3 separate regions of the Homo sapiens genome follow, and regions 2 and 3 are each linked to region 1. Evidence: fine-mapped expression QTL. A gene starts in region 1. Each other region holds a variant in brackets. All regions are shown on one strand. Distances are between the middles of the regions.

Region 1 (10,408 bases):
AAGCCAAGGTGGGTGAATCACTTGAGGTCAGGAGTTCAAGACCAACCTGGCCAACACGGCAAAACCCTGCCTCTACTAAAAATACAAAAATCAGCCAGGCGTGGTGGTGCGCACCTGTAATTTGAGCTACTCAGGAGGCTGAGGCAGGAGAATTTCTGGAACCCAGGAGGGTGGAGGTTGCAGTGAGCCGAGATCACACAACTGCACTTCAACCTGGGCAACAGAGCAAAACTCCATCTCAAAAAAAAAAAGAAAGAAAGAAAACAAGTTTCTTTCCTAACCACCCTGGACCCCAGAATCTGACTACAGGAAAAAGAAATACACAGAGCAGGCCGAGTGCAGTGGCGCACGCCTGTAATCCCAGCACTTTGGGATGCCAAGGCAGGTGCATCACAAGGTCAGAAGTTCGAGACCAGCCTGGCCAACATGGTCAAACCTCGACTCTATTAGAGATACAAAAAATTAGCTGGGCGTGGTGGTACATGCCTGTGATCCCAGCTACTTGGGAGGCTGAGGCAGGAGAATCGCTTGAACCCGGGAGGTGGAGGTGGCAGTGAGCTGAGATTGCGCCACTGCACTCCAGCCTGGGTGACAAGATGAGACCCCGTCTCAAAAAAAAAAAAAAAAAAAAAAAAGAAAGAAACATACAGAGCAGCGGGAAATGAAGCACCTACTACAAGCCAGATGTTCAACTAGTTTGTGTGATCTTCACCATAAGAGCAAATAGCTACCAGGTCTTCAAGCTTTCTAGATATCTTTTTGGAGAGATTACCATATCTACAGAAAAGTGGCAGATAGGTGAAAGACATGGAAACAGAAACAGGTAAGCCACAGCTGAGTGGGCAAACCCTCCTGGCAGTCAGAGAACAGGTGCCAATTAGGGATGCAGAAACAGCAGATTATAAAGACCAGAATGCTTACTTCCCCTTCCAGTCCTGTAGTGAATCCCCCATTCTGATTCTTTGCTCAAACCTCCTGACTTTCTGGGTAAGCTGGTGCTGTTCTAGTCTAACTCGTTACTGTGGGTCTCTGAGTTTAGTTAATGCCAACCAGCATCCTCCAGCCAGGAGTTCACAAAGGAGGTGAACTCCTCAGCTCTCTCAGCCATGAGGGTAGAAGGCCAGTCCCAGAGGCAGGATCCAGCCCAAGCGCCCAGTCTTCCTGGAGTCCTGCAGAGCTCTGCTGTCCTTTCGTGGCATCAGCGTTGTACTGAGAACAGCTGTGGTTCACCCCAAGTCACAAGGTGGGCACCCACAGAAGTGTGGCTAGGCCTTGTTCTGTCAGGCAGCACAGAAGGGGTATGGGAAGAGCTCAGCTTCTCCTTTTGCTTCTATTTCTGCTCCTTGACCCAACCACACCCTCTCACTCTTGATACGCAAAATGGGACACAGGGGTTCCCACTGTTCCCTTGCTGTGCACCATAAGGCTCAGGCCACATGAAGGAGTCCTTAAGTGTAATGCACAGCTGGAAGTCACTGTTCCTTCCATGGGTAAAACTGGAGGCCGAATCGGCCGGGCAGGGTGGCTCACACCTGTAATCCCAGCACTTTGGGAGCCCAAGGTGGGAGGATCACGAGGTCAGGAGATCGAGACCATCCTGGCTAACATGGTGAAACCTTGTCTCTACTAAAATACAAAAAAAAAATAGCCAGGCGTGATGGCGAGCGCCTGTAGTCCCAGCTACTCGGGAGGCTGAGGCAGGAGAATGGCGGGAACCTGGAAGGCGGAACGTGCAGTGAGCTGAGATAGCGCCACTGCACTCCAGCCTGGGTGACAGAGTGAGGCTCCGTCTCAAAAAAAAAAAAAAAAACAAAAAACTGGAGGCCGAACCTAATGGACTCATCTGGTTCTTTCATTCTGGAAGGCTTCCAAGCCCTTCCACACCAGCCCCTTTCCTCTCTGCAGTAGAGGAAGTGGAGCCGGAGAATAAACAACTCCTGGAAGGCCACCATCTCTTGACGCTGCAGATCTTCATTTTCTTTGGAGAAAATGTATACAAAAAGCTTGTCTTATAAGATTCTGTGGTTTCAGCTCTTCTATTGCACTGGGCCATGAAGTTTTTTAAAAATCTGAATGCAAACACATCAGTAAGAGTGTTAGCTCTGTTGCTGCAGTGTGACCAGGAACCAGGCTCAGTGGCCACTGGAACCCTTCGACTCTGTCATGCATCTATGCGCTCCTCCGGTTTATGGGGGCTAAACTGCTATGGATACCAGCATTTTTGTTTTTCATTGAGATAATTTATCCAAACTTGGAAGTGACGTCAAAAGGGAAAAAAAAGGTTGCATGCTTTTTTCCCTGCTAACGCAAGTTCAGTGTTTTACAACCCCAACAATCACTTGACTTTCTAGGAGAAATAACTAAACTATTTACCACTGATTGTGGGTCACGCATTTTACAATCTGCAAAGCTAATTCTCCTTTCCATCAAGAAGAAAAGACAATCCCAAAGGCTGTGGTTTCAATGCACACAGGATATTCACCAATCTTATTATCTAATCTGGCAATCTTCTCTCAGCATTCCTGTTACCCACTCACTAAGAAAATCCTAGTTTTGTGTATTCTCTTTTGAACTGACATTCCTATCCTGCTGTATACTGCATTAATGACTGAAATATAACCTGACAAGAGCTATTTACATGAGAATTATACTTCTAACATTTTGAAAATTATACATTGATGGGTTGTAAAAATGTTTTCCAAAATCAACAGAAATACATGTTTAATACACAAAATTCAGAAAATATAAACAAGCATAAAAATACAAAAATAAAAATTTACAATCCTCTTACACAGCTCCAAGCACCATCACTATTTTTTGGTGCCTGCTGGGTCAATTGTTTTTCTAGATATAAACTCTTCTTTTTACATAAAAGGGGATAACAGTATACAAGCTGCTCCCCGGCCTGCTTCTCTTCTCTCAGCAACAGCTAATCCTCCTCTGCAACACGGTTGCAGGGACTCCACCATTTACCTACCCGGTGTCCTACCAGGCTTTTGCCCAGTTCCTCGTTATCAGAAGACATTGTGTATTGAACATCTCTGAGGCCACCTAGAGAACCTGTGCTCTTTGTATGGAAACTGGATGCTCAGGAAGAACTTCCTTAACAACCACAGCCTCCATGACGGCCAATCTGAAAGTGAGGCACAGAAGTGTTCAAGCTCAGTGGGGAGCTGTGGCCATCTCATATTCCCTCAATCACTCACACTTCCTGCACCATTGCTCTTTCCTCTCACAACCTTCCTGAAAAGTTGTATGTAAATAAAAATCAAAATACGGGAGTGAGGTAAGCAGAAGCTGGATAGTTACAGATTTCACACAGAGGGTAAACTGAAACAGGAGTCAGAAGCAGCCGCCTCGCGCCAGTCTTTCAGAGAAGAGTCACTTACAGCAGAATCTACACAGGCTGGGGAGCCCCTGGCTCCCCTCCCTACTGTCCACACCCAACCCCAACCTAGAGCAGCTGGCTATAGGGCCCAGAGCCCAGGCGGGTCCCACCTCCTGCTGACCTGACCCAGCGCCCGCTCTCTCCCCCGCACACTTTGGTGACCTTACCCAGCGTCCCTCCCCGCTCCTACAGGTTCTGACTGACCCAGCGTCCCTCCGCCTCCCACACCATGTTGAGCTGCACCTTGTCCCCTTCCGCCCCAGCTAACTCGGTGACCAGTGGAGGCCACACCCACGTGACACCTGCTGTCCTTGACAGCAGCTCCGACGGCACCTCTGTGGCTCTGCAGGAGCCGCCTCCCCGCCTCGTGGGCACACAGGTGAGCTGACCGTACTTGCCCAGCCGGTCTGAGGGAAGCGAGGTCAGGGGCGACGGCGCCGCCTCCGCCTCCGCCTGTCCCCTCCCTCCGTCCGGCATCCGCGCCGCTCAAGGACTCCAAAGTCAGCGTCGCGGTGAGGAGCCCCCCACGCCCAACCCGCGCAGGCAGGACCCCGGGCTGCGGGGCTCGAAAGTCCCCCACAAGCTGCTGTCCGGGAACCGCACGGCCCGGGGTGCCGCACGCCCACCGGAAGGCAGGGCTGGGACCGCGGACGCCAGGAGCCACCCCGGCCCCTCACCCGGGCTCCCCCTCACGTGGGCTCCCGCGCGCCCATCTGGGTTCCCCCTCAGCTGAGTTCCCGGCCCCTCACCTGGGATCCCCGGTCCCCTCACCCGGGCTTCCCAGCCCCCTCGCCTGGGCTCCACGCGCGCTCACCTGGGCTGCCCCTCACCTGGGTTCCCGGCCCCTAACCCGGGCACCCCGCGCGCTCACCTGGGCTGCCCCTCACCTGGGTTCCCGGCCCTCACCCGGGCTCCCTGAGCGCTCACCTGGGCTGCCACTCAGCCGGGCTCCCTGCGCTTGGCGCCGCCCCGCCCCTGCAGGACTCCCGGCAGTCACTGACCTCATTGCCGCCCAGTCACGACTGGCCGGCCTCAAACACCGCCCGCGCACGCGCGTTCGCACGCGCGTGCGCACGCGTTCTGCCCCCCTGGGGGCGTCGCTACGAGAGGCCCCGCCTAGGCGCTACGACGGCGGCGGGCGCGGGAGGGGCGGGGCGGCGGGCGCGGGAGGGGCGCGGCGGGGGGCGGGGCGCGGCGCGGGGGGCGGGGCGCGGCGGGGGGCGGGGCGCGGCGGGGGGCGGGGCGCGGCGGGGGGCGGGGCGCGGCGGGGGGCGGGGCGCGGCGGGGGGCGGGGCGCGGCGGGGGGCGGGGCGCGGCGGGGGGCGGGGCGCGGCGGGGGGCGGGGCGCGGCGGGGGGCGGGGCGCGGCGGGGGGCGGGGCGCGGCGGGGGGCGGGGCGCGGCGGGGGGCGGGGCGCGGCGCGGCGGGCGCTGTGGGGCGGCGGGGTGGACGCGCTGAACCACGGCCGGCGGGAGGGGCGGGGCCGGGCTGAACCATGGCGGGCGGCGGCATGGGGGCGGTGGGGCTCCGCGGGCAGCCTGGTTGCGCTGCACCCGGACGGGGCCGAGGGGACCTGAAAGCTGCGGCAGAGCCTGACCGCGCCGTTCTCCAGAAGAGCCCCGGCCGCGGCTGAGTCGCGCTCCGGGTGTGGACGGAGCCGGAGCCTCCCCGGGGCTCGGTGAGGACACAGGGCCCAAGCCCCGGACCTTCAAGTCTTGACCGAGCGCATCCCCGGCCCTTCTGCGCCCACACCTGAGTTTTTGTCTGTAGGAGTTTCCGCAGTTTGCTAAGGTTGTTATTCGAGTTACTTATGTTTCTTCTCTCTAAGGTTGTTATTCGAGTTACTTATGTTTCTTCTGTCTAATGTGTTTTGTTCCCTCTTTAGAATCGACATCTAGAGGAGTACTCACCACTTAATTGATGATCAATACACGTTCCTTGAAAGAACCGATAGCATGCGATCGATACAGAGCATCTGCACTGGGATTGTCCGCCCCGCCTGTCAGGGAGGCCTCGGGGGCTAATGGAGCTGAGGGTATAGTCGGCCTTGGACCCTCGCTTTTTTCCTTTCCTGTACTATGAAGATAACTGCCTTATCTCCCCCTCAGGACTGTTTTGGGGATTAAATAGGACGTTTAAATTACCAACGCTCTTTGAAATAAACATTTCAAAATTATTATAACCCTTTAGTACATGTGGGAAAACGTTGACATTCATGTTCAAGTTTATTTTTCTGCTGGCTCATTTAGGTTTGTTGAAGCCTTGAGTCCCTAGGATTGTCTAAGAACATGGGTAAATGTGTGTGGAGGCCTCCCTGGAGGCCAGAGAACTGCCAGCAGCCTTCATGATGTTAGGGGAACAGGAACCTAGGAGAGCCAGGGTGACATCGTTTTAAAATCAACAACCCATCTTGGCGGGCGCGGTGGCTCAAGCCTGTAATCCCAGCAGTTTGGGAGAAAAAAATTAGCCGGGTGTGGTGGTGGGCACCTGTAATCTCAGCTACTCAGGAGGCTGAAGCAGAATTGCTTGAACCCAGGAGGCAGAGGTTGCAGTGAGCTGAGATCACGCCATGGCACTCTAGCCTGGGCAACAAGAATGAAACTCTGTCTCAAAAAAATAAAAATAAAATAAAATAAACTCCATCTTAAAACCAGTGAAACCACCATTGCAAAATTATAACTGAGACAGTGAGAGATCTGACCTAACCAACTCCATCCTACTTTTAACCTCCAAACTGTCCTTGTTCATTCCTGGGTGTAGGCCAAACTAACTTTGGAAGAAACTTAGTTTATGGTTTCCCGAAACAAATCCTTTTCTTGTCTGGAGACTAGACTGCCTTTGTAGGACTAACAAATTAGCCACAAGATTAGAAATTATGGTTTAGAATTCATGCAGCTGGAGATTACAAGATTCTGACCCTCCCTAAATTGCTCCTGGGGATAACATCACTATTGAAAAACCTAACAACAGTGCTTGAGATATTTTGCAGACCTTGCACTTGCTGAATTAGCTGGGACCATCCAGATGGATAAACTGGCTCATCTGATCTTGTGGCCCGCACTCAGCAACCGGCTCAGGCCAAGAGGACAGCTTTGATCCATACGATTTCATCTCTGATCTGACCCCTCAGTGCTCCCAGCTTACTGGCCCCCTACCTACCAAATTATCCTTAAAAACTCTGAACTCCAGGGCTGGGCACGGTGGCTCACACCTGTAATCCCAGGACTCTGGGAGGCCGAGGCAGGCGGATCACTTGAGGTCAGAAGTTCAAGACCAGCCTGGCCAACATGGCAAAACCCCGTCTCTACTAAAAATACAAAAATTAGCCAGGCGTGGTGGTGCACGCCTGTAATGCCAACTACTTGGGAGCCTGAGGCAGGAGAATTGCTTGAACCCTGAAGGCGGAGGTTGCAGTGTGCTGAAATCGCACCACTGCACTCCAGCCTGGGCAACAGAGCAAGACTCCATCTCAAAAACAACAGCAAAAACTCTGAACTCCGAATTCTTGGGGAAATTGATTTGAGTAATAATAAAACTCTGGTCTCCCGCACAGCCAGCTCTGTGTGGATTATTCTTTCTCTATGCAGTTCACCTGTTTGGATAAATCAGCTCTGTGTAGGCAACATGAACCTGATTGGCAGTTACAGTAGCCTGTAATCCCAGCTACGTGGGAGGCTGAGGCAGGAGAATTGCCTGAACCTGGGAGGCGGAGGTTGCAGTGAGCCGAGATCATGCCACTGCACTCCAGCCTGGGCAACAGAGCAAGACTCCATCTCAAAAAAAAAAAAAAAAAAAAAAAAAGATGGCTATAGTCATGCTTAGATGTAGTTACGCACTGAAATGCCAAGGATAACGTTATTTACATCCACCAAGTACTAGATCTTGTCACACTGCCAGCCCACCTGCACTTACACGTAGCTTGGCTTTTACATTGATACAAGATGCCTTTGAAACAAAGATGGCACATTCTTCTTCCTGCTTTCCGCGGGCTCCCCACTCTGTATCAGAGCAGCTGTCTCTCACTGCACTCTGCGACTGCCTTGAGTTCCTCCCTGCGCAAGATCCGAGAACTCTCTCTTAGGGTCTGGACTGGACCCCTTTCTCCATCAGCACTGGGTTCCTTAGATTCCTACTAACAGCATGCTGAGGCCTGTCTTAACAAAGAATGAAGTGAGGCTTAGAAAGATGGAACCATAACTTGCTCAGTCACGTGGCTAGTAAGCTCTTCAGCTTGAATTTAAACATTCCAGGACTGTGTCTTTCCACTCGGCCATCTTTAAAGCAGAGTGATAAAATAGTTTTGTTTTCTAAAAAACCATCACAGGCATAACTGATCACAGGTATAACCAGTATCCATGCGGGGTGTGGAACACTGAATGAAACCCGGGCGGATTCCCAGCTTGCTCCGTCTCAGCTTGGGCACTGCTGTTTACAGCCTGTGTACTCCCCTCCCGCCCTGCCACCCACAAGTGTCTCACCTCCTTCCTCGACAGATCGAATGACACAACAAACATTTATCTTGGGTGCACAGCGTGTCAGGCGTCAGGCTAAGCACTTTGATAAACTGGTTCTTTCAAACATCACAGGTGTCTGACGCAGGCACCATTATCCACGTCATAGAAAAAAAACAGTGTTCAGTGAGCCTGAGGTTAGCAATGTGTGCACCTCCACACACTGCTAAATGACAAAGCTGAATTTTGAAGTACGATGCCATGAGGTGTCTGGAGTAGACAACCAAAATGACTTAATTGAGGTGTCAGGGGACTGTCTTACTTTCTGGTCACACAAGCAATATACGCTCATTGTGAGGTTTGGTTGTTCCATTACAAAAAAGACTGTTTTAAAAGCCATTAGCGGAGGGATGGGAGGAGTTCTCTTCTGCCTGTTTCTTCCTCCTAAACAGCAAAATGACGGTGTCCTCAAAGGGATGTATAATGAGCGAGAGGCGAAAAAGAACGTCTGTGATTTTAAATCCAGTGTCCTTCACCAGTGAGCAATAGTAGTTCTGTGAGTGGGAGAGCAGGACCGCGGTGCTTGCAAACAACACTTTAAAACACTGGAACCCAAGTTCAGGATCTGCTGACAGCACATCTGCAGGAAGCATGAGGGTCTCTGGACTCCCGCAGATCAGCTGCTCAGCTTCTCAGCCTCAATGTGGCAAAGACTCTACCTGACCTAACTCCAGGCAGGGTCCTCGAAGCCCTCAAGGCTCTGACCTGGACCCCTGTCCCCTTTCGTCCAAAAGAATCCTGCTGGGTCAATGCAGTGACAGTTCCCCGCCCCTGATATCATACTCCTCATCCCTCACCCTCGGTATCTTATCACCTGGCCTGCCTGTGGCACGAATCCTACCAAGTGGTTCTAGCAAGAACCCCCCTGGCCTGATGTAGCCTCTTCATAGTTTTCCGTCCGTTCTCACCCTCTCCGTGGCTGTACATTCCCGTTTTTCTTCTTACACTCAGAGTTGAGCCTAGTCCCACTGCAGTGGCCCCTGCACCTATCGCGATTCCTTTGAGACTGTAAAACAAAAATAAAATTCTAGTCCCCCGCCAACCCCGTTAGCCACGAGCTTTCCAAAGTAAACCTTAGAGACTAGTTCAGACCGTGATGGGAAGTGGGGGTGGGACAGGCTCCTTATACCCGCCTTCCGTTGAAATCCAGGCACAGCTGACCTGCATTAACGTCAAAGCAGAGATCTTAAGGTTGACAAAACAGACTCTGTAGCAATAAGATACTACATTCCAACCTGACTCTAGTATAGCATCACATGATAGAGAGCAGGCCCTGGAAGAAATCAAGCATTTTACCCCAGAATATATTTCTTTGACATATTTTGAAGGGGCCCCACACGGCTGTCTCTTGAGGGGAAAATCCACATCCTGCCAGAATCCCCTTCCCTTTCCAGGTCTTTTCCCTGATCTAGGAGAGATTTAACTAAGAGTCTGGCACCTCTTTTAGGTCCAATAAGAGCTCTGAAGATAAAAAACCTTGGTCTCCACAACCTTTATCGTAACCCAGACAATCCTTTCTATTCATTCCAGGTCTCTACAATAATAACTTAACTCTTTCAATTAATTGCCCATCAGAAAATCGTTGAATCCATCTGTGACCTGGACACCTTCCACCTGCATCCATGGAGTTGTGTCACCTTTCTGGACCAAACCACTGGACACCTTACATGTATCGATTGGCAACATGTACACCTCCACACACTGCTAAATGACAAAGCCGAATTTTGAAATACGATACTGTGAGGTGTTTGGAGAAGAGAACTGAAATGACGTCATGGAGGTGGCAGGGGATCGTCTTGCCCTTTTCTTATTTTCTGCCTGTAACTTCTGTCCCCCTAAAATGCATAAAATCCAGCTAGAACCCAACCACCTTATGCAGCAGTTCTTAGGACCTCATGGGGCTGTGTCATCAATCAAAGTCCTCATATTTGGCTCAGAATAAATCTCATCAACTAATTTACAAATTTGACTCTTTGTGTTGACAAGTCTGTCTTACCGTTCTTTAATAAGGGCCGTGTATAATGTTTTCTTTAGCAAGTGTGGCAAAATTAAACCTTAGAAATAAAGAGAAAAAGAACTCATTATAGAAAACTGTCTTTCTGCTGATGCGGGCATTCACTGTGTCCATTTCTTTTTCCAAAAAGTGTATCTTTCTTAAAAACTGAAAAATATTGAGCCACAAAACACAGTGCCGATGGCTTGCATGCGGGACACTCGGGATATCGTACTAAAGGGCTCTGATGCTGTCTTGGTGATCTCTATGCTGGGTGTTACTTCTGCTGGCTGTGTGACCTTGGAGGGGTTGCTTAACCTCTCTGAGCCACAAGTGTAAAAGGATGAGATTGGTCCCTAAAGTCTCCTCCAACATGAAAGCTAGACGATCCTGAATCTTCTGCTATTTGAGGATCAGACAAACAACATTTGGCAGGGTTCTTCCTGTTGAAAATGATAACCCCGAGATAATAGCCGTAATTATCAGTACCCAAAGAAGCCTTAAATCCCCATTGGAC
Region 2 (10,408 bases), 27 kb before region 1:
AGCCAGGTGCAGTGGCTCACACCTGTAATCCCAGCACTTTGGGAGGCCGAGGCAGGTGGATCATGAGGTCAGGAGATGGAGATCATCCTGGACAACATGGTGAAACACCGTCTCTACTAAAAATACAAAAATTAGCTGGGCATGGCAGCGCATGCCTGTAATTCCAGCTACTAGACAGGCTGAGGCAGGAGAATCCCTTGAACCAGGGAGTTGGAGGTTGCAGTGAGCTGAGCCAAGATCATGCCACTGCACTCCAGCCTGGGAGACAGAGCAAGACTCTGTCTAAAAAATAAATAAATAAATAAAATAAAATAAAATAAAATAAAATAAAACATAAAAAAAGGAATTTGACATAGAATTTTATAGCCAGCTCAACTGTCACTGAAGTATAAGCACATACCAAATTATCTTCCAATATAAAAGGCCTCAGAAGATCCACTTTTCCAAAACTCACTTTGAAAACGTTCTTCAAGGAAATTAGAAGATAAATAAATCCAGGAGGATGTTGATAGGAACTATGGGTATAAAAAACTTTAGATCAAATAGATTTTAGTAGTCTATTGTTATCTAAAAAAGCCAGGAGCAGCCAGGTGCGGTGGCTCACGCCTGTAATCTCAGCACTTTGGGAGGTCGAGGCGAGCGGATCACAAGGTCAGGAGATCAAGACCATCCTGGCTAACACAGTGAAACTCCATCTCAACTAAAAATACAAACAATTAGCTGGGCGGGGTGGCGGGCGCCTGTAGTCTCAGCTACTCGGGAGGTTGAGGCAGGAGAATGGCGTGAACCCGGGAGGCAGAGCTTGCAGTGAGCCAAGATCGCACCACTGCACTCCAGCCTGGGCAACAGAGCGAAACTCCGTCTCAAAAAAAAAAAAAAAAAGGCCAGGACCAAAGTGAGGAGAGAAGATGAAGTACATTTACAACAATGCAAAAGTAAATATTTAAACAGAATCAACATGGGAGTCCAAAGATTTAATATTAATCTGCTCAGGAAATCAATACGATTAGCTATGTATTGATGTGGATCTTAAACTAAAGGTAACCACCATTAAAATCGATAGGAGAAACTTAGGGAAAAAGAAATGAATGTAAAAGCCAATTATGAATGAAGGAGGCAGAAATAAAGTCCTGCTGCAACCAGACACAATCAACTTAATGAGCTAAAACACCAATACGAAGCTTGGATTTATAAAGAAAGAATCAACAGTTTTCCAAGAGAAGCATATTTAAAAGTAAAGGATACTAAAAAGTTTAAAATAAATAGAAAAAGAAGTACTAGGCAAATTGGAATCAATATAAAACTAGATAGTAGCCCTGCTATCTGCCAAGTCCAAAGCAATCAGCGAACAGCATGCTGTTACACACCTGAAAGAGGAAACAGATGAACAAGATGCAACCATCATGATCACATGTGTACTTAAGCATGTTTCTTTAAAAAAGCAAAAACTGACCGGGTGCAGCGGCTCATGTCTGTAATCCCAGCATTTTGGGAGGCCGAGGCGGGCGGATCTCCTGAGGTCAAGGGTTTTCGAGACCAGCCTGGCCAACATGGCGAAACCTCATCTCCACTAAAAATACAAAAACTAGCTGGGCATGGTGGCGCATGCCTGTAATCTCAGCTACTCGGGAGGATGACGCAGGAGAATCACTTGAACCCGAGAGGCAGAAGTTGCAGTGAGCCGAGATTGCGCCACTGCACTCCAGCCTGGTGACAGAGGAGACTCCGTCTCAAAAAAAAAAAGCAAAAACTGACACAACTCTACAGAGAAAAACATAAGTTGGCAATTATACTAGATATTTCTTAAAACATATAAAATAGCAGACATCAAAGATTTGAAACATACAAATTCTAAATTATTATATTTACATAGAACTCTGCATCCGATGGAGACTATACTTTTAAAAATGCATAGAATGTTTACACAATTTGATCATATATCATGAAAAATGTATTTAGCAAGAAAGAAACACAATAAACTCTAAAGCAACAAAGTGTGTTCTAATGTAATAGTAAAATAAATTTTGAAATAAATAACAAAAGGATAGAAGTTTTAAAATACCACATTTTTGGAAAGGAAATGACATTACTAAATATCCCTTGGGTTTAAAAGTAAACCAGAAGAGGGTTACAAAATATTTAGAACCAAATGAAAATAAAAACAAAAATGTCACACTTTGTGAAACAATGTTAAATTAGCACTTAAAAGAAATTTTATAATTTCTAATGTATTTACAGGAAGCAAGAAAACTTCAAAATAAAACAAAATATTCAATACAAAAATCTGAAAACTGAATAGAAACACTGAATACATTGAAAACAACAAGAAGAAAGGAAATAATGAATATAAGGACAGAAACAAATAAAAACTTATCAAAAAGATTAGCCAAAAAAACCACTACTTCTTAGAAAGATTAATAAAGTAGAGCTTGAAAAAGACCAATCAAACCAAAAAACAAGCAAGTAAGATACAAATCAACAAAATATAGAACAAAAGACCCTACAGATATAGAGAGATTTGCTAACATAAAAAAGTACTTTTTAAAAAATGTTACATTAGTTAGGAAATATAGATGAAAGACATATGTTTTTCAAAAATATAAATGCTGAAATTGTAACAAGAAGGATTTCTGTAAAAAAAATCCTGCATGATTTCATGTGTAAGACGGCCTAGAACAGGTTAACTAATCTAAGTAGAAAAATAAACTAGAAAGGGATCAAAGACCTAAATGTAAAAGGTAAAACTAGAAAACTCTCAGAAAAAACTATGAGTGTCAATCTTTGCAGTCTCAGGTTAGGCAAAGCCTTTTGTGATATGATCCGAAAACCACAAACAACAAAAGAAACATAGAAACTTCTAGAAACATCAAGAGAGTGAGAAGACAAGCCCCAGAGTGCAAAGAGGTCTGTGCAGACCAGGTGTCTCATAAGTGGTGTGCATACAGAATAGATCCAGAACTCTTCCAACTCCACGATCAAAGAATTACCCTACCAGGCCAAAAGGACACCGGATGTGAAGAGGCGTTGCTCTCAGGAAGACACACGAAGGGGCCAGGTGCCAGTGAGGTCACTCAGCGTCATCAGCCATCAGGGAAATGGGAAGCAAGCCACACTCAGGCACCACCGCGCACCCACTAGCATGGCGGTCGCGACGCAGATGGGCAGTAACAAGGGCTGCTGAGGATGTGCCGAGCCCGGAACCCTCACGCACTGAAGGGAGCGTAAAGCAGCCAAGAGTGCAGGTGCTTCGTGAAACGGTCTGGCAGTTCCTCAGCATCTAACCAGCAGTGGGACCCAGCAGTTCCATTCCTAGCGGAATACATAAGAGAGGGGACGCCTATGTCCCCACAAAAACATGCACATGATGTTCATCCCAGAACTGTTCATAACAGCCAAAAAGGGCAGATGACGCAAATGGCCATCAACTGATGGACAGCTACATAAAATGTGGTCAATCCATACGATGGGGTATGATTTGGCAATAAAAGGGAATAAAGAACTGGTACACGCTACAACACGGATGAACCTTGAAAACATGGTGCTGTGTGAGAGAAGCCAGCTGCACAAGGCTATGTATTGTATGATTCCCCTTATAGGAAATGTCCAGAATGGGCAAATCCATAGAGACAAAAAGATAGCAGTTGCCTAAGGTCAGGGAGGAGGACTGGGGCGGGGCGGGGGGAGGGGGGGCGGGAGTGAGGGTCGGGGGGCGGGAAATGGGTAATAGCTACTAATGGGGACAAATACTTTTTTTTTTTTTTTTAGGTGATAAAAATGTTCTAAAATTGATTGCGGTGGTTTCACAATTCCATGAATACTAAAAAACACTAAATACACTTTAAACGGGTGAATTTTATGGTATATGAATTATAGTTCAGGAAAGCTGTTAAAATAAACGAACTGGTTCCTTTTGGAGAAAACAGGGCAGGAGAAATAGAGAGGAGAAGACATTTCTCTGGGCACAGCTTTTTGAATAGTTTTAACTTTTGGAATCATGACATTTTACATATTCAAATAATAAAATTATCAAGAATCGGGGAAAATGCTACAACAGAATGCCAACAAAGGAACCCAAGTGTCTGTCAAATGATTAGCCATCATCTGAAGGGGAGTCGGGACAAAACAAATTTAAGTAATTTTTGGAGACAGCACTTTGACTGCATACCCTCAGACTAAAGAAAAAAGCTGCAAACAGATCTGGAACTCTCCATGGGTTTGTTTCTTGTGGCCCTGTGGGTGGAGCCATTCCAAACCTGCTCTGTGTTACAGCGTGTTTGAGCCATGCGTGATGCTGTCTCTGCTGTTGTGAGCCGGGGTCGTCACCATGCAAGACGGGATGCACAGGAATGAGGCAGGCAAGGAAGTGCCGTGGGGCTGGGTTGCAGCAGAGGTAGAAGGGTGTGGAGGTTCTGATGGCCCATGAGCAATGAGCACATCTCCCACCCACATCTTAACTTCTAAATTCCATTCCTCACTAAAAAGAACCAGAATTCTCAGAGAAAGGGCTGGATCCAACCACACGGCAGAGAAGGCGTGTGTCTGCTGCATACAAAATAAGGACGTGGCCAGGTGCGTGGCTCACGCCTTCAATCCCAGCACTTTGGGAGGGCGACGCAGGCGGATCACAAGGTCAAGAGATCGAGACCATCCTGGCCAACAAAGTGAAACTCCATCTGCACTAAAAATACAAAAATTACCCAGACATGGTGGCACATGACTGTAGTCCCAGCTACTTGGAAAGCTGAGGCAGGAGAATCGCTTGAACCCAGGAGGCAGAGGTTGCAGTGAGCCGCCACTGCACTCCAGCCTGGCAACAGAGTGAGACTCTGTCACAAAAAAAAAAAAGCAAGAAAGAAAAGAAAAGAAAGAAGGACGTGCTCCATATACACCACGGAATACTATGCAGCCATAAAAAAGGATGAGTTCGTGTCCTTTGCAGGGACATGGATGAAGTTGGAAACCATCATTCTGATAAAACTATCACAAGGATAGAAAACCAAACACCGCATTGTTCTCACTCATAGGTGGGAATTGAACAATGAGAAGACTTGGACACAGAAAGGGGAACATCACACACCGGGGCGTGTCGTGGGGTGGGGGGAGGGGGAGGGATAGCATTGGGAGATATACCGAATGTAAATGACGAGTTAATGGGTGCAGCACACCAACATGGCACATGCATATGTAACAAACCTGCACATTGTGCGCATGTACCCTCGAACTTAAAGTAAAATAAAAATAATAATAATAATAAAAAGAAATGCAGACATGTAAAAAAAAAAAAGAAAAAAGAAAATAAGGATGTGCTCAAAACAAGGACTGGTACAAAGAAGGACGATTCAACAGCCTGAAGAGACCCCCACAGCAAACCTGGAACAACGGGAGCAGCAACATCACAACAACAATCAATTATAACCCACTATAAATAGAATACCGTTGCCAAACAGAGAATCCAAGAACCCACAGGGATAATAAACAAACACTGGG[A/G]AGAAAGTAGCCCTTCTTTATAGAATGCAGTAAGAAGTGACGGAGTTGGAAAATTAGCAATATTGAGCCATCACCGTGAAGGTTGACCCAACTGAGTGCAAACGTGACTTGGTGCCAGTGAGGCCAGCTTGGGGCAGGAGGCAGCTTTATGTGCAGACAGGGCGTTCTCAGCCTCAGCAGATCTCCCGCAATATACCCAAGGACGAGGAAAATCAGTGACTGTTCAGAGGAGGAACCACCTTATCAGGGACCAAAATTAACATTGCCAATCAGGGCAAGCTGACAGACGTCTCTGTGTTTGATATCTCAAGGACACCGTTTACAGAGCACTCCAGCCAGAAATATATAACTCGAATTCCATCCTGACAAAATACCAGACCAAACCAAATTGAGGGCATTCTTTAATATAACCAGCTGGTATTTGTTCAGAAATATCACTGCTGTTAAAGACAAAGACAGGCTGAAGAACTGCAGCAGGTTAAAGAAGAATAAAGAGATATGATTACTAAACAGAGCATGTGATCTGGTACTCCGTCCTGGACCAAGAAAAAAAAGGATAGGAAAGAAACCGTCAAAGTTGGAATGAAAACGGTAGATGAGATAAAAGGTACTGGCTCCATGTTACATTTCTTGAATTGATAGCTTATGTGGTTACATAAGAGAATATCATTATTCTTAGGAAATAAACATTGAATTTTTTATTTTTTTTTTAGACACAGTCTCACTCTGTCACCCAGGCTGGAATGAGATTGCGTGATTTCAGCTCACTGCAACCTCCACCTCCCGGGTTCAAGCAATTCTCCTGCCTCAGCTTCCCTAGTAGCTGGGATTACAGGTGTGCACCTGGTTAATTTTTTGTATTTTTAGTAGAGATGGGATTTCACCATGTTGGCCAGGCTGGTTTCGAACTCCTGGCATCAGGTGATCCACCCGCCTCAGCCTCCCAAAGTGCAGGGATGACAGATGTGAGCCACTGTACCCAGCCAATAAACACGAAAGTATTAAGGGGTAAGGGATATAAAGTAACGTAGGGGAAAGAAAGAAAGAGGAAGAGGCAAGGAGAGGGACAGAGACAGTGGGAAAGGGAAGAGACACTGCTATGACAAACGTGGCAAAAAGTTAAAAATAGATAAATAGGGATAAAGAGTATATGGAAGATTTGTTCTTTTTTCCCCCTCAAATTTCTGTAAGTTTGAAATTAGTTCAAAATAAGAAGCTAAAAACAAAAATAAAACGGAACAGAGCAACTTCCTTTAAACCAGGAAGCCTCCTTTTGAAGCTGCAGCATCTGAGATGCAGGCGGCGAGTCCAGCCCCTCCACTCTGTCTCCCCTCCCAGCCAAGATGATTTTTAAAAGTCCACAGTTGCAAACCGTAAGTGTCTCCTAGGGAGAGCTTTCTATCATTCACGTGGTTAACATGGTTAGCAGGTTAACACCTTCATCCTGTGTGTTTAGGAACGTCTGTGAGAAAGGGTAAAGGTGAACACGGCAGGTGGGGCGTTTCCTTCACTTTTGCGGTCAGGCCGGTGTTTTCCTTGCGTGATGGGACCCCAGGCTGGTGGCCCAGGGCTGTGCCACTCGTTGCTTCCCATGCCTGAGTGTGGATGTGGATCCTCATGCCTGCCCCTCATGGTGCCAACGGCAGGTGCCCCTATAGGCATCGGGACTGTATTTCAAGGAAAAAGGAGGCAGGAAGGGGCGGGAAGGTGTCCTCAATCCAGGCTTGCCTTCACTTGCAAAGGCAAACGCACTCAGCTGCAAGCCCTCCCCTTCTCAGTGGCCAGAACTGTGCTGTGTGCATGCCAAGGGCCAGAAGACAGACACCAGCTGGCAGAGGACTGGCTGACCAGGGACCGACGCTGGCAGAATGCAATTCCAGTCCTGCAACTAGTTCCAAATTAAAATGTAAAAAGCCACATTTAGCAAATGAGATTTTTCCTGAGCTTTATTTTTTTAAGGGCTGCGTGCTTTCTATTTGAGATAATCTGAAATTACAGAAAACACACAATGGGAATATCGCATGGTGGCCTCCACCTTTCTAAGCTTTGGCTGTTGCCACAAAACCACTCTATGGCTCTAACGTTCTGTGCTCCGTGATTGTTTTGTGTGGAAACAAAATCTCTGGGGTTGACCAGATATGCTTGGAAATTCCTTGCAACAAATGAAACAGCAGCTAAAATGCACTGTGTTCCAATTGGGATTTTGCATTTCCCATATGATTTTTGAAAAACAACACAGAAAACGTGAACGTTACAAGGACTATAAAACTTTTCTGTGTAGGCCAGGCACGGTGGCTCATGCCTGTAATTCCAGCACTTTGGGAGGCCAGTATGGGAGGACTGCCTGAGCCCAGGAGTTTGAGACCAACCTGAGCCAGACAGCAAGACCCCATTTCTACACAACAAATTTAAAAATTAGCTAGGCATGGTGACATGCGCCTGTGATCCTAGCTACTTTGGAGGCTGAGGCAAGAGGATCACTTATGCCTAAGAGTTTAAGGTTACAGTGAGCCACGATCACGCCACTGCACTCCACGCCTGGCCGATAGAGAGAACCTGTTTTAAATTAAAAAAAAAAAGTTTTTTATGTAAAGTTTTGGCAGAAACTTTTCAGATTGAGACTTGACATTTAATAACTTTCTGTAATAATGGAGGATTTTAACTTTGGTTTAATTTTTGGACTCTTTTGATGGGTTTGAGGTTGCAGGTATCAAACCCTGCAGGAATGGGCTGTGCACGGCTTCAGGCGGGCTGGAGTGCTAACTGAGGCTGCCAAGCGTGAAACAGCACAACGGTAAAAGCAAAATACATGCAGAGAGAAAAGAAATGAATTCACTCCATGGGCCTGCAGATGTGGAAAAGAAGTGTCACTAAGGCCAGGCGCCTGTGCTCTGGGGTTCCTGGCCAGGTTCCCAGAAGGAAGGGTGTGGTTTCTTTTTCCTCTTGGATGGCTGGCTGTGGGTCCTGGATACCTCGGAATCAATTCCAGACATTTGGGGTTGAGTCATCGGAAGAAAGGAAATAGAGACGTCTGAATTTTTCACATCACTATATTTTAAACATGATTAGGCAAGTATATTTTTGTTACTAAAATAGTAAATACATTTTACTAAGAGTGAAGTACATTTTGTTACTAAAAAGGAGAAAAGTTATTCAAAATGATAAATATGGAATTAATAAGCTCTCGCATTAGAAGAAAATAGGAAGAAAGTTAGCAAAGAAAGGGGTGAACTGAAAGCGTCAACATGCATTCGTGAAAGTCTGGGTGCAGTTTATTCTGATTTACTCTGAGGTGAGCTGAAATCAGGACCGCAGGGTGGGCGATGCATCTGTGACAAGGCTGGACAGACTCATGGGTGCCTGCCCCCCCTCCTCCTGCAGCCCCTCCCCCAGGGCAGGCCTCCTGTCCTGGGAGCCAGGCTGCTGGCATGTCACACAAAATCACGTGTGCTGGGTTCTGCACAGAGCAAAGCCAGGTATGCAGCACAAGGCAGGCTGTCTGGCTCTCGAAGACCCCGATAGAGAGCCCCCGCAGGCTGGGCATATTCTGACCCCAGAGGTGGCAGCTTCCTGCAGTTCCCTGATCTGTCATTCCTGTCCTGTGACTTCCAGGGAGGGGCAGCTCCTGGGAGACCCACCAGCTGACACCTGGGACTCTGCCCTTCCTTCCTAGGCTGCTGTGTGAGTGGGGCTGGGGTCTGGAGACCCTGAGGGCTGCCCCAACACCAACACCCCTGCCTGTGCTCCTCTTGTGACATGGGTGCGTCCTGTCTTTACTGCCGAAGCCACAGCAGGGGTTTAGGGAGCCCGTGCATCTGACCAGTACCTGTCTAACCCCACGCCGCCTGTGCCACCGTAATCTGACCGGTACCTGTCTAACCCCACGCAGCCTGTGCCACCGTAATCTGACCGGTACCTGTCTAACCCCACGCCGCCTGTGTCACCGTAATCTGACCGGTACCTGTCTAACCCCACGCCGCCTGTGCCACCGTAATCTGACCGGTACCTGTCTAACCCCACGCCGCCTGTGCCACCGTAATCTGACCGGTACCTGTCTAACCCCACGCTGCCTGTGCCACCGTAATCTGACCGGTACCTGTCTAACCCCACGCCGCCTGTGCCACCGTAATCTGACCGGTACCTGTCTAACCCCACGCCGCCTGTGCCACCGTAATCTGACCGGTACCTGTCTAACCCCACGCCGCCTGTGCCACCGTAATCTGACCGGTACCTGTCTAACCCCACGCCGCCTGTGCCACCGTAATCTGACCGGTACCTGTCTAACCGCACGCCGCCTGTGTCACCGTAGTCTGACCGGTACCTGTCTAACCCCACGCCGCCTGTGTCACCGTAGGACAGAGCACAAAGGAGCACCCAGGATGCACACCTGACACACTTCGCGGCCGAGCCGCAAGCCTGAGGAGCGGGAGACCCTCGCGGTTCAGCGGCGTGAGGGCAGAGCGACGGAGCCCCTCCGCTTCTGTCTGCGTGAGCACATTCGCATAGAACAAGAGTTCTGACCTGGTCAAACACTTGACACGCACATAATGGAGGAAACTTTTGGCATGCTATCAAATGCTTTCTCACATGCACACAACATCTCCTCCCCAGCATGAAGGAAAGGCAGCTGACCCTGGCCGACCCCACCCCAGGCTGGCCCCCACCAGAGGCCCGAGCGTTTCCCCTTCTGGCCACACGTTTCCAGTGGCCACCGTTCTCTACTGAGGACATCACCTCCAGCCGCTGGTCTTGCCAGGCAGCCTGTGCGAGGGTGAAACTGGCTGCCCAGCCTCCCAGCCCTGCCCTTACCGTGGTAAATTCCCCCCTCAGCAGGTGTCCCCATATCAGCCCTTGGGTCTGTCCCCTGCAGGGCCCTGCCTGGCAGCCCTGGGTACTACTGGTTCATCCACTCCCTACTGCC
Region 3 (10,408 bases), 38 kb before region 1:
CTGTCTCTTTTTCCCTTTGATCATTTTGCTAGAGGTTTCCAATTTTTCTGTCTTTTCAAAATCCATTCTGTCATTTGTACCCATGGAATTACTATCTCCTGCTTTATTAATTCTGGCCTTATTTTTATTTTCTCCCTTCAATATACTTTTGGTTTGTTCTACTATTCAATTTCTAAAGTTGTAGACCCAATAATTTTTAGCCATTCTTTTTTTTCTGTATTTTTTAGTTGACAAAATTATATATTCATTAAAATCTCCTTTTTGCGTATATGTGTGTGTATATATATATATATATATATATATTTTTTTTTTTTTTTTTTTTTTTTTTTTTTTTTTTTGAAATGGAGTTTTGCTCTTGTTGCCCAGGCTAGAGTGCAGTGGTGCGATCTCAGTTCACTGAACCTCTGCCTCCTGATTTCAAGCGATTCTCCTGCCTCAGCCTCCCAAGTAGCTGGGATTACAGGCGCCCACCACCATGCCTAGCTAATTTTTGTAATTTTAGTAGAGATGGGGTTTCACCATGTTGGCCAGGCTGGTCTCGAACTCCTGAACTCAGGTGATCCACCTGCCTCGGCCTCCCAAAGTGCTGGGATTACAGGTGTGAGCCACCGCATCCAGCCCCTTTTTACATATACTTTTAATTTTTGTATATACATTTTTATGACTATATATAGTATGTACAGCATATATATTTTGTGTGGAGAGAGAGAATTTCTAGTTTTTAAAGGTTCAGAAAATCCATTGATACAAATATTACTGAAAATATTTAGGGGATAGGACATGAGGTAGCCTCCACTTCAAAACCTTCCTTGTACAGGTGAGTGAGAGACCTGGAGTTACAGGATTATCTGGGGGCAGGGTGGGGAGGGGATGATGTTGAAATGAAAACCAAAACTCCCGAGTGTTCCTATACCAAATTAGCAGCTTCATGTGAAAATCAGCCCCAAGGAAAACCCAGGAGACAGCTGGGTCCACAGCCCTGGAGAAGCAGGAGCAGCAGCTGGGTCCACAGGCGAGGAGAGGCAGATCCTGGAGAAGCAGGCTCACTTCTCCCGCCCAGTGGTGGCCATGCCATGTCCCTCCTTCCACGTCTCCCAGCCGCACCTAAAACTAGTACAGATGGGAATAAAACCCACCTCTGGAGTGTGTGTAAGTTATGCAAGGTGTGAATCAAACATAGGAAACGCTGCTAGTGCATGGCCTTGGGCAGACACACAGGAGAACCAACAGGAAGGAAATTTACCAAGATATTAACACATGGTCTGTTTCCCTCTTTATTGTAATTTGTATTTCCAAAACTAATACTTATTACATTTATATACTGATTAAAACAATGAGTGGATTTCTTTAATAGATAAGAAGTATCAATATGTACAAGTCCATTTTATTCATGGCTGAATTAGCAAGAAATATATAAGAACCAGTTAGCCATATTTTGACACACCATGTCTTTTTAAATTAGCACTAACAGTAACCTATCAGCATAACCCAAAGAAACATTTACCCTTTGTAAAATGACATCTTCCTCTTGTCAAGTGTTTAAAATGAATATAAATGGGCCTGCTGTCCCCAGTTTTTCTGAGCAAGTGATTTGCAAAAGCTTAAGGCCTGAAACCTTGAAGCCTGTACCAAACTGTCCAAACAAGGCAGTGTTGATGAAGATGGACACCCTTGCTATTTTCTCATTAGTCCAGAATAAGTAGGATGTAGTTACAGAAAAATCACACCAGGCGCCATGGCTCACACCTGTCATCCCAGCACTTTGGGAGGCCAAGGCAGGCAGACCATGAGGTCAAGAGATCGAGACCAGCCTGACCAACATGGTGAAACCCCGTCTCTACTAAAAATACAAAAATTAGCTGGGCCTGGTGGCGTGTGCCTGTAGTCCCAGCTTCTTGGGAGGCTAAGGCAGGAGAATCACTTGAACCCGGGAGGCAGAGGTTGCAGTGAGCCAAGATCATGCCACTGCACTCCAGCCTGGTGACAGAGCGAGACTCTGTCTAAAAAAGATAAATAAATAAAATAAAAAAGTCATGCCAGAAAGCAGGAACACTTTGCAAAGGAAGTTATTGACAAACAGTAAAAATTCTAAAAATCACTATAGTAAATGAGTGAAGGTTAGCTGCTGCAAAGGGGAAAATGTACATAGACCATAAATTAAGCTACACATCGTAGAAAAATAAATAATCACTCCAAAAGATCCCACCTCCACAGGGAGGCTTGAAAAGATGCTATTACACCACAGCCCACAGATGAAAGTGTGAACTCAAAAGTATCTGAGACAGGTCTCCATCCATTTAGAAAGTTTATTTTGCCGTGTGGGTTCACTTTCACACTGCTATAAAGAAATAGCCGAGACTGGGTAGTTTACAAAGGAAAATGGTTGAACTGACTCACAGTTCCATATGGCAGGGGAGGCCTCAGGAAACTTAAAATCATGGCGGAAGGCAAGAGGGAAGCAGGCACCTTCTTCACAAGGCAGCAGGACAGCGAGTGTGAGAGAGCCTGGGGCAACTGCCCTTTATAAAACCATCAGATCGCTGGGCGAAGTGGCTCACGCCTGTAACCCCTGCACTTTGGGAGGCCGAGGAGGGTGGATCACCTGAGGTCAGGTGTTCGAGACCAGCCTGGCCAACATGGTGAAAACCCATCTCTACTAAAAATACAAAAATTAACCAGGTGTGGTGGCAGGCACCTGTAATCCCAGCTACTCGGGAGGCTGAGGCAGGAGAATCGCTTGAACCCGGGAGGTGGAGGTTGCAGTGAGCCAAGATCACGCCACTGCACTCCAGCCTTGGCAACAAAACTCTGTCGCAAAAAAAAAAAAAAAAAAATCAGATCTCGTGAGAGTTATTCACTATCGCGAGAACAGCATGGGGAGAACCGCCCCCATGATCCAGTCACCTCCGGCCAGCTGTGTCCCTGGGGACTGCAATTCAAGATGAGATTTGGGTGGGGACACAAGGCTAACCATATTACTTGCCAAGGTTAAGGATGAGCCCGTGACACAGCCTCAGGAGGTCCTGACCACATGTGCCCAGGGTGGTCGGGGCACAGCTTGGTTTTATACATTTTAGGGAGACGTGAGACATCAATCAGTAGGTGTAAGATGCACATTGGTTTGGTCTGGAAAGATGGGACAACTCAAAGTGGGGGCTTCCAGGTCACAGGCAGATAAGAGACAAACAGTTGCATTCTTTTGAGTCTGGGATTAGCCCTTCTTTCACCAAATACACAATTTACATGTGAAAGGGGGGTAGAGGAACAGTCACTCTTGCCTTAGTCTGGCTTAGTGAATCTGCATTTTTTTCTTATTTTTTAGAGACAGGGCCTGGCTACATGGCCCAGGATGGTCTCAAACTCCTGGACTCAAGCAATCCTCCTGCCTCAGTTTCCTAAAGTGCTGGTCTTACAGGTGTGAACAACTATGCCCAGCCTGCATCTGCAGTTTTAAGTAAAATGGGAGGCGGGATTCCCTGATGCAGTTCCCAGCTTGATTCTTCCCTTTGGCTTAGTGACTTGGGGTCTCGAGATTTATCTTCCTTTCACAAGAGCCTGTGGTTCCACCGTAAGGACTGGAGTGGCCGATGCAGGGGGAGGAGTTTTGGGTGTGGCCACAGAGGCAGCTCCCAGCAAAGGCTGGCCACTGCATCCCCCTTCCTCACTCTGACTCCAGTCTTTCTGGCCATGAAACTTGACCTCTGTCATTTCAGGGGTTTCTTGTGGCCCCTCCACCCAGGCTAGCCCAGCTGAGCCCTCGAGGCTCCTCCTGCACCCTAGGCCTTGTTCCTATCACTTCCAGAGCCTGTCTGGTCAGTCCGAAGGTCTCTGTGTTAATGTTAATGCCATCGGCTGTTCCTGACCCCAAAGGGAGAGGATACAATGAGGCGTATCAGACCCTCCCCTTCCCGTCCGGCCTGACTTGTTTTTCAGGTTTGTTTGGAATCCTCTTGGCCAAGAGTAGGGGTCCATTCAGTTGGATGGGGGGCTTTTGGTTTTCGGAATTTTATTTTTGGTTTAAAACGGATGCTCACATGGGAGCCTGGGCCCAGAGCGGCCCAGGAAAGCACGTTCCAATGCTCCCTGCAGTGATCTAATGCGCTCAGAAGGTGGGAATGACTGTTCTAGTTCCCAGAGCCCCTTTTGCAGGGGACAGATGCTGGTGTAGAGTCCATGGTGCATTCAAGTCATGTTTCCTGCCCATTCCATCCGAGTGCAGTAGCCTCAGTATCTCATGCTACTAAAGTGATTGTCCAATCACTGTCACCGCCTGAAGGCTGGCTACAAAATTAAGAAATTAAAACTCCTGCCCACTGCACAGAGAAAACCAATTCACTGAAACCATGGTGTTGCAATAAAGAAAGTTTAACTGACACGAGGCCAGCCACGCCACGTGGGAGATGGAGTTATTCCTTTCATGCGCGTCCGTGTGAAGAGACCACCAAACAGGCTTTGTGTGAGCAAAATGGCTGTTTATTTCACCTGGGTGCAGGCGGGCTGAGTCCGAAAAGAGAGTCAGCGAAGGGAGATAAGGGTGGGACCGTTTTATAGGATTTGCGTAGGTAAAGGAAAATTACAGACAAAGGGGGTTTGTTCTCTGGCGGGCAGGAGTGGGGGTCGCAAGATGCTCAGTGGGGGAGCTTTTTGAGCCAGGATGAGCCAGGAAAAGGACTTTCACAAAGTAATGTCATCACTTAAGGCAAGGACCAGCCATTTACACTTCTTTTGTGGTGGAATGTCATCAGTTAAGGTGGGGCAGGGCATATTCACTTCTTTTGTGATTCTTCAGTTACTTCAGGCCATCTGGGCATATACGTGCAAGTCACAGGGGATGCGATGGCTTGGCTTGGGCTCAGAGGCCTGACCATTACTTAAATCAATTTCCCTGAAAATTTGGAGGCTACTGTATTTCAAGGGTAGTTTAGCAGGCCAGGGAGTCCGCTTCTGAGTGGGGCCACAGGATCAGTCGGACATCAGAAATGCAAAAACTTGAAAGGACATCTCAAACGGCCAATCTTAGGTTCTACAATAGTGATGTTTATCTGCAGAAGCTGCAAATCTTGTGACCTCCAGAGTAATGGCTGGTCGTCGTTTACATCTATATTTTAGCAGAATCCAGGCTCCTCTCATCCTCCTAACCTACTGGCCTTTCATTAGCTTTACACAGGCAGTTCAGTTCGGGAGAAGGGCTATTATCGTTTAAACTATAAATATCTTCCAAAATTAGTTTGGCCCAGGCCTAGGAGTGATGAAAGACAGTTTGGAGGTCAAAGGCAGGATGGGGGTTGGTTAGATCAGGTATCTT[T/C]CAACGTCATAGTTTTCTCACTGCTGTAATTTCTGAAAGGTGGTTTCATCACTTCCAAGAGGGTAGAAGACATGTCCTACTCTGGCGGCAATTCCTGCGGGTGGCTGAAGGACTGAATCTGCACAGAGCGGCTGTCAGAGGCCAGTGCGTTCTCTGCTCCTTGTGTTCCTATCACCCAACTCTCCTGTAAGCCAGGCAATAAGAGACGGGAGAAAAACATCCTCATGCAAAGCAGCCGGACCCAAAATGAAGAAATGAAAAGATCAGTGGATCGTTAAGACCCGAAGTCAAATTTTTAACATGCCCCTGACTTTGTGGTTTTAAACTTGCCTGTTTGAGACATGTAAATACTCACTGATTTATAAAAACACCAGTCATCAGGCGTGCCAGTTTGATTCCAGAGAAAACAGTAGAGAGTGCCTTATCGGGAAGAACAAATGGCTGCCCTTATCTAGACGCTTTCACTTACTGCATGGTTCAGCACACGGCATTTTCATGATATGCAGAAACCATCTTCATAAAAAGTAATTTTCCACTTGCCCAATTAAATAACTGTCAAAGCGTATTTCCGAGGAAATTACACTGCATTGTTCTTAACTTTGCTTAGTTGTTAAAAAAAAGTTGACATTTTATTGTGAAATAAAACATATGCAGAAGAATTCACAAATCACACATTTACTAAATGATTATAAAGCAAATAGCTATGTAACCAGATCACAAGCAGAGCCCTGCCAGCACCCCAGAACCCCCACGGATCCCATCCTAACCACAGCCCCATTCCCTCATTGGGAAATGTGTTTGGTTTTATTTGCAAGCCAACCCATAACCTCACCTCATGTTCCAAGAAAGTCCCACAGTGATATGAGGCCAATCTGTTCAGCTATTTTTATAGGGAATTCTTTACCGCCTAAATCCAAAATACTTCCAAAATACTTCCCACTTCTGGGAGCCTGGAACTCACTCCCACGCTCTTGGCCTCATCCAGGGAGGAGCTTTCTCGCAAACCTGTCGCTCCAGGTCCTAAGAAACCAGATTTTATTAAAAGATTGGGTTTAGGACAATTAGGTAACTGATTAGTCTATCACAGTTGTCTGTGACAAGAACATAAATATTAGAGTTGAGACGTCAATTTTGTGAATAAAACCAAGCAGAAACCCTAACAAAGGCAAGAAGGGGTTTGTTTAGATCAGATGCAAGGGCTTCTGGTCCAACAGGCAGACAGAGCCCTCATGTCCATCCATTTCCTGCTGAAACCTGGCTAAAAATATTTAAGTGTTGAAAGTAGAGAAAGAAGATAGAAGGCATGGCCGGGTGTAGTGGCTCACACCTGTAATCCCAGCTCTTTGGGAGGCCGAGACAAAAGGATTGTTCAAGGCCAGGAATTCAAGGCCAGCCTGGGCAACATGGTGAGACCCTGTCTCCATTTAGAAGAAAAAGAAGAAGAAGAAGAAGAAGAAGAAGAAGAGGAAGAGGAAGAGGAAGAGGAAGAGGAAGAAGAAGAAGAAGAAGAACAAGAATTGGAGGAGGAGGAGGAGGAGGGGGAGGAGAAGGAGGGGGAGGAGGAGGAGGGGGACGGGGAGGGGGAGGGGGAGGGGGGAGGGGGAGGAGGAGGAGAAGAAGGAGGAGGAGGAGAAGAAGAAGGAGGAGGAGGAGGAGAAGAAGAAGGAGGAGCAGGAGGAGGAATACAATGGTCCAGTGCCAAGACAGTGAAAGGCAGAGGGCCATGGCAAAGTCTGAGGGCTGGAGGCAGATGGACAGATGATGGACGAATGGGCACCGGTGAGGCCAACCAGAGGAGGCTACCGGAGCTACAGGGAGAGCCTTTCAGGCATCTCTGAAAGGGGACATCAGGCGAGGCTGAAAGCAGGAGGCACAGGATCACCAGGTCCTGCTCCACACCCAGGAGGGCAGGTGGCAGCCCCAGCCCAGCTCGGAGGGCCCAGGAGGAATCGGCCAGAAGACACTGTCATGGAGATCCTGAGGCAGCAATGGGAAGCAGGAGGAGTGAAAGAACAGTGGCCTTTGCCTACTTGGATCCAAGAGTTGTGGCAGTCGAATGACAGATCCTTCCGCTCCGCACCCCAGGGGACAGCATGACAGATCCTTCCGCTCCGCACCCCAGGGGACAGAATGACAGATCCTTCCGCCTCACACCCCAGGGGACAGCATGACAGATCCTCTCGCCGCACACCCCAGGGGACAGCATGACAGATCCTCTCGCCGCACACCCCAGGGGACAGCATGACAGATCCTCTCGCCGCACACCCCAGGGGACAGCATGACAGATCCTCTCGCCCCGCACCCCAGGGGACAGCATGACAGATCCTTCCGCCCCGCACCCCAGGGGACAGCATGACAGATCCTTCCGCCCCGCACCCCAGGGGACAGCATGACAGATCCTCTCGCCGCACACCCCAGGGGACAGCATGACAGATCCTCTCGCCCCGCACCCCAGGGGACAGCATGACAGATCCTTCCGCCCCGCACCCCAGGGGACAGCATGACAGATCCTCTCGCCGCACACCCCAGGGGACAGCATGACAGATCCTCTCGCCGCACACCCCAGGGGACAGCATGACAGATCCTCTCGCCGCACACCCCAGGGGACAGCATCACAGATCCTTCCGCTCCGCACCCCAGGGGACAGCATGACAGATCCTTCCGCCCCGCACCCCAGGGACCCCAGAATTCCTTTCAGGGAAACACACCCATGAGAAAAATCTGCGTGATTCAAGAGTTCCTCAGTATGAGACCCACGCGCCTCCCTGGTTATCCCCGGTCCCACAGGCAAACCTCCTTATGCCACAGACACACACACACACACACACACGCACACCCGGGGTTCCACATCCTTTCTCAGTGCCTCATGCTGAGAAATAAATAGTCGAAGACCACCAGACACAAGGAAGCCTTCGACATGGAGAAAGAGGCAAAACCAAATTGTGTGGTCAGAGGAGACAGTGAATGGGGCAGAAGAAAACTTCAACAGAGAAAAGCGATTGTTGAAATGCTCCGGGGTGTCTGTCTCCCACCAGTGGAATTGCTGTGACACTCGGTGTGTGTCAGTGTGTGCAGAGGCATCTCCTGTCTCTAGTGGAGACTCTGGGATCAAATTAGTGACTGGTACACGAACACTCATCCAACCACTAGAGGAGGAGGAAAGGGCGCAGGGCTTTATTATGAACAGGCTAGGTCAACAGGACGGGCCTCGGGATGGGAAGTGGGTTTGAAGAGAAAGAGGAATCAAGAAAAATCCCAAAAGTTTTGACTGCAACACCTGGAAGGAGAGCAGCCCCCTGTACCGAGATGGAGGTAACAGGAAGAAGAGCACCTTGTGGGGGAAAGCAAAGCCCTGGTGTGGGTGGCCTGAGGCTGTAGAAAGTGTGTGATGCTCCAGATAAGGTGTCAGCTGACCCAGTATTCAGGTCTGGGCTGGAAGTGAGATTTTGGGAGCTTCTTGGGTATGGATGTGATTTACAGGTGACTTTGCCTGGGAAGATCCTACAGATGGAGAAGAAAGACAGGAGGAGGTTAGGATGATGGGAGGGGGACCAGGATCGGGCTCCAGGATCCCTCCCAAAAAAGCTCTTCTGGAGGAAGGGTTGGTGGAGCAAGTGCTGGCCGCCGGTGCCCTGGCAGGGGTGACTGTGGGGGGCAAAGGGCACTGTGGTGGGCCTTGGGCCTAAGAGACAACAGGAAAGAGGAGGTGGGGCTGGTGTGTGTAGGAAGTCCTTCTAGGTGGTTTCTCTAGAAAGAGAAGAGGTAGCTGCTGGAGGGGGTGAGATCCAGGGGTCTTTTCATGGCAGCAGCTCTCAGCATGGCATAGATGGACCAGTACCCCTGAGTGTAAAGGGGCGACGGTCCCGGGTGGAAGGGGCTTTGGACAGGCAAGGGAGGGGAGACAGTGCAGAGCCTCAATGCTGGTGGGCGGGATCAATGTGATGGTAAGCAGACTGGGACATTCTCTCAGGAGTTATCCATAAAACCTAGTGGACAGTTAAAAAGAGGGGAGAGAGAGAGAAAGAGAGAGACAGCAGTGGGAGTCCAGGCAGATGTGAGTTTGTGACCCAGGGAGGAAGCCTGGCAGAAGGGGCCCCTTTCCTCCAGATCTGGGGATCTGGGACCTAGGAGTGTCTTGGGATCTGTAATGACTGGGAAACATCCAGGGCAGTTTCCACGGCAGCCCCAGTGCGCCAACACCTGGTCCAGGAGGACAGAGAGATTTACTGAGTCCAGACTCGAAACAGAACTACACAAATAGGAAGGTGTGGAGGGGGACGTGGGTCCTGATTTCCAAACTGGGGCCTCCAGCCTTGGATGGAGGAAGTTAGGAAGGAAGGAAACAAGGAGAATTCAGGGACAGCTGGAGAAAAGGCCTGGAGTTCCTACCGGTCTATGGAAAAAGCAGCAATCTTGTGAGTGGGAGCATCATCCGGAGCTGGGTGGGTGGGAGGACTATCAGGGAGGCTCGGGGCTGGGCAGGAGATGGCCCTGCTCTCCTTCCCCTCCCCGTCTTCTGCAAAGCAGGCAGGTCTGCTCGTCCAGTCCTCAGGGGATGCTTAACCTCACTGCACTTTCGGCTATTTGTTTTTTAAGAGTTTGACTGTAACTCCCTGCCCCCAGGTGCTGGCGGTAGGGCTGCAGCTAATGGAGTGGTTAGCCCAGACTCTTTCCCTTCCCAACCCCAGTTCTGGGGAAGACCTCACCTGGGATCTTCCGACCAGTGTCTTATACCCCAGGGGGAACACACCCACTCCAAAGAGCTAACACCCAAGGACTGCAACCCCTGAACAAGAAACGAGTTGAGCTGAGGATACTGTTTAAAGTTTATTTATTTATTTATTTTATTTACCCAAGGACTGCAACCCCTGAACAAGAACAAGTTGAGCTAAGGATGCCATTTAAAGTTTATTTATTTATTTATTTTATTTTTATTTTTTGAGACAAATCTTGCTCTGTCGCCCAGGCTGGAGTGCAGTGGCGTGATCTCGGCTCACTGCAACCTCTGCCTCCTCGGTTCAAGCGATTCTCCTGCCTCATCCTCCTGAGTAGCTGAGATTACAGGCCCGCGCCACCACACCTGGCTAAGTTTTGTATTTTTAT

The links.
Region 2: its variant is fine-mapped to the expression of CLN8 in gastroesophageal junction (GTEx, PIP above 0.99).
Region 3: its variant is fine-mapped to the expression of CLN8 in whole blood (GTEx, PIP above 0.99). The same link has a PIP of 0.9 or more in lung.

What each region holds. Positions count from the first base shown.
Region 1 is chr8:1,757,793-1,768,200 of GRCh38, reverse strand. CLN8 (CLN8 transmembrane ER and ERGIC protein) reads right to left here and starts at 4,412. Exons shown (of 3, transcript NM_018941.4): 1 at 4,316-4,412. It overlaps CLN8-AS1 (CLN8 antisense RNA 1), which reads left to right and starts at 3,617. Exons shown (of 2, transcript NR_134303.1): 1 at 3,617-3,767; 2 at 5,273-6,238.
Region 2 is chr8:1,784,682-1,795,089 of GRCh38, reverse strand. It overlaps CLN8 (CLN8 transmembrane ER and ERGIC protein), which reads right to left. Exons shown (of 3, transcript NM_018941.4): 3 at 8,520-10,408. Among named protein-coding and RNA genes, the nearest start is that of MIR3674, 11 kb to the left of the region's middle. RefSeq lists a silencer at 9,682-9,804. The variant A/G (reference allele first, on the strand shown) is at 5,488.
Region 3 is chr8:1,795,755-1,806,162 of GRCh38, reverse strand. MIR3674 (microRNA 3674) reads right to left here and starts at 5,038; the gene lies at 4,971-5,038. RefSeq lists enhancers at 3,092-3,752, 4,413-5,074, 4,908-6,107. The variant T/C (reference allele first, on the strand shown) is at 5,306.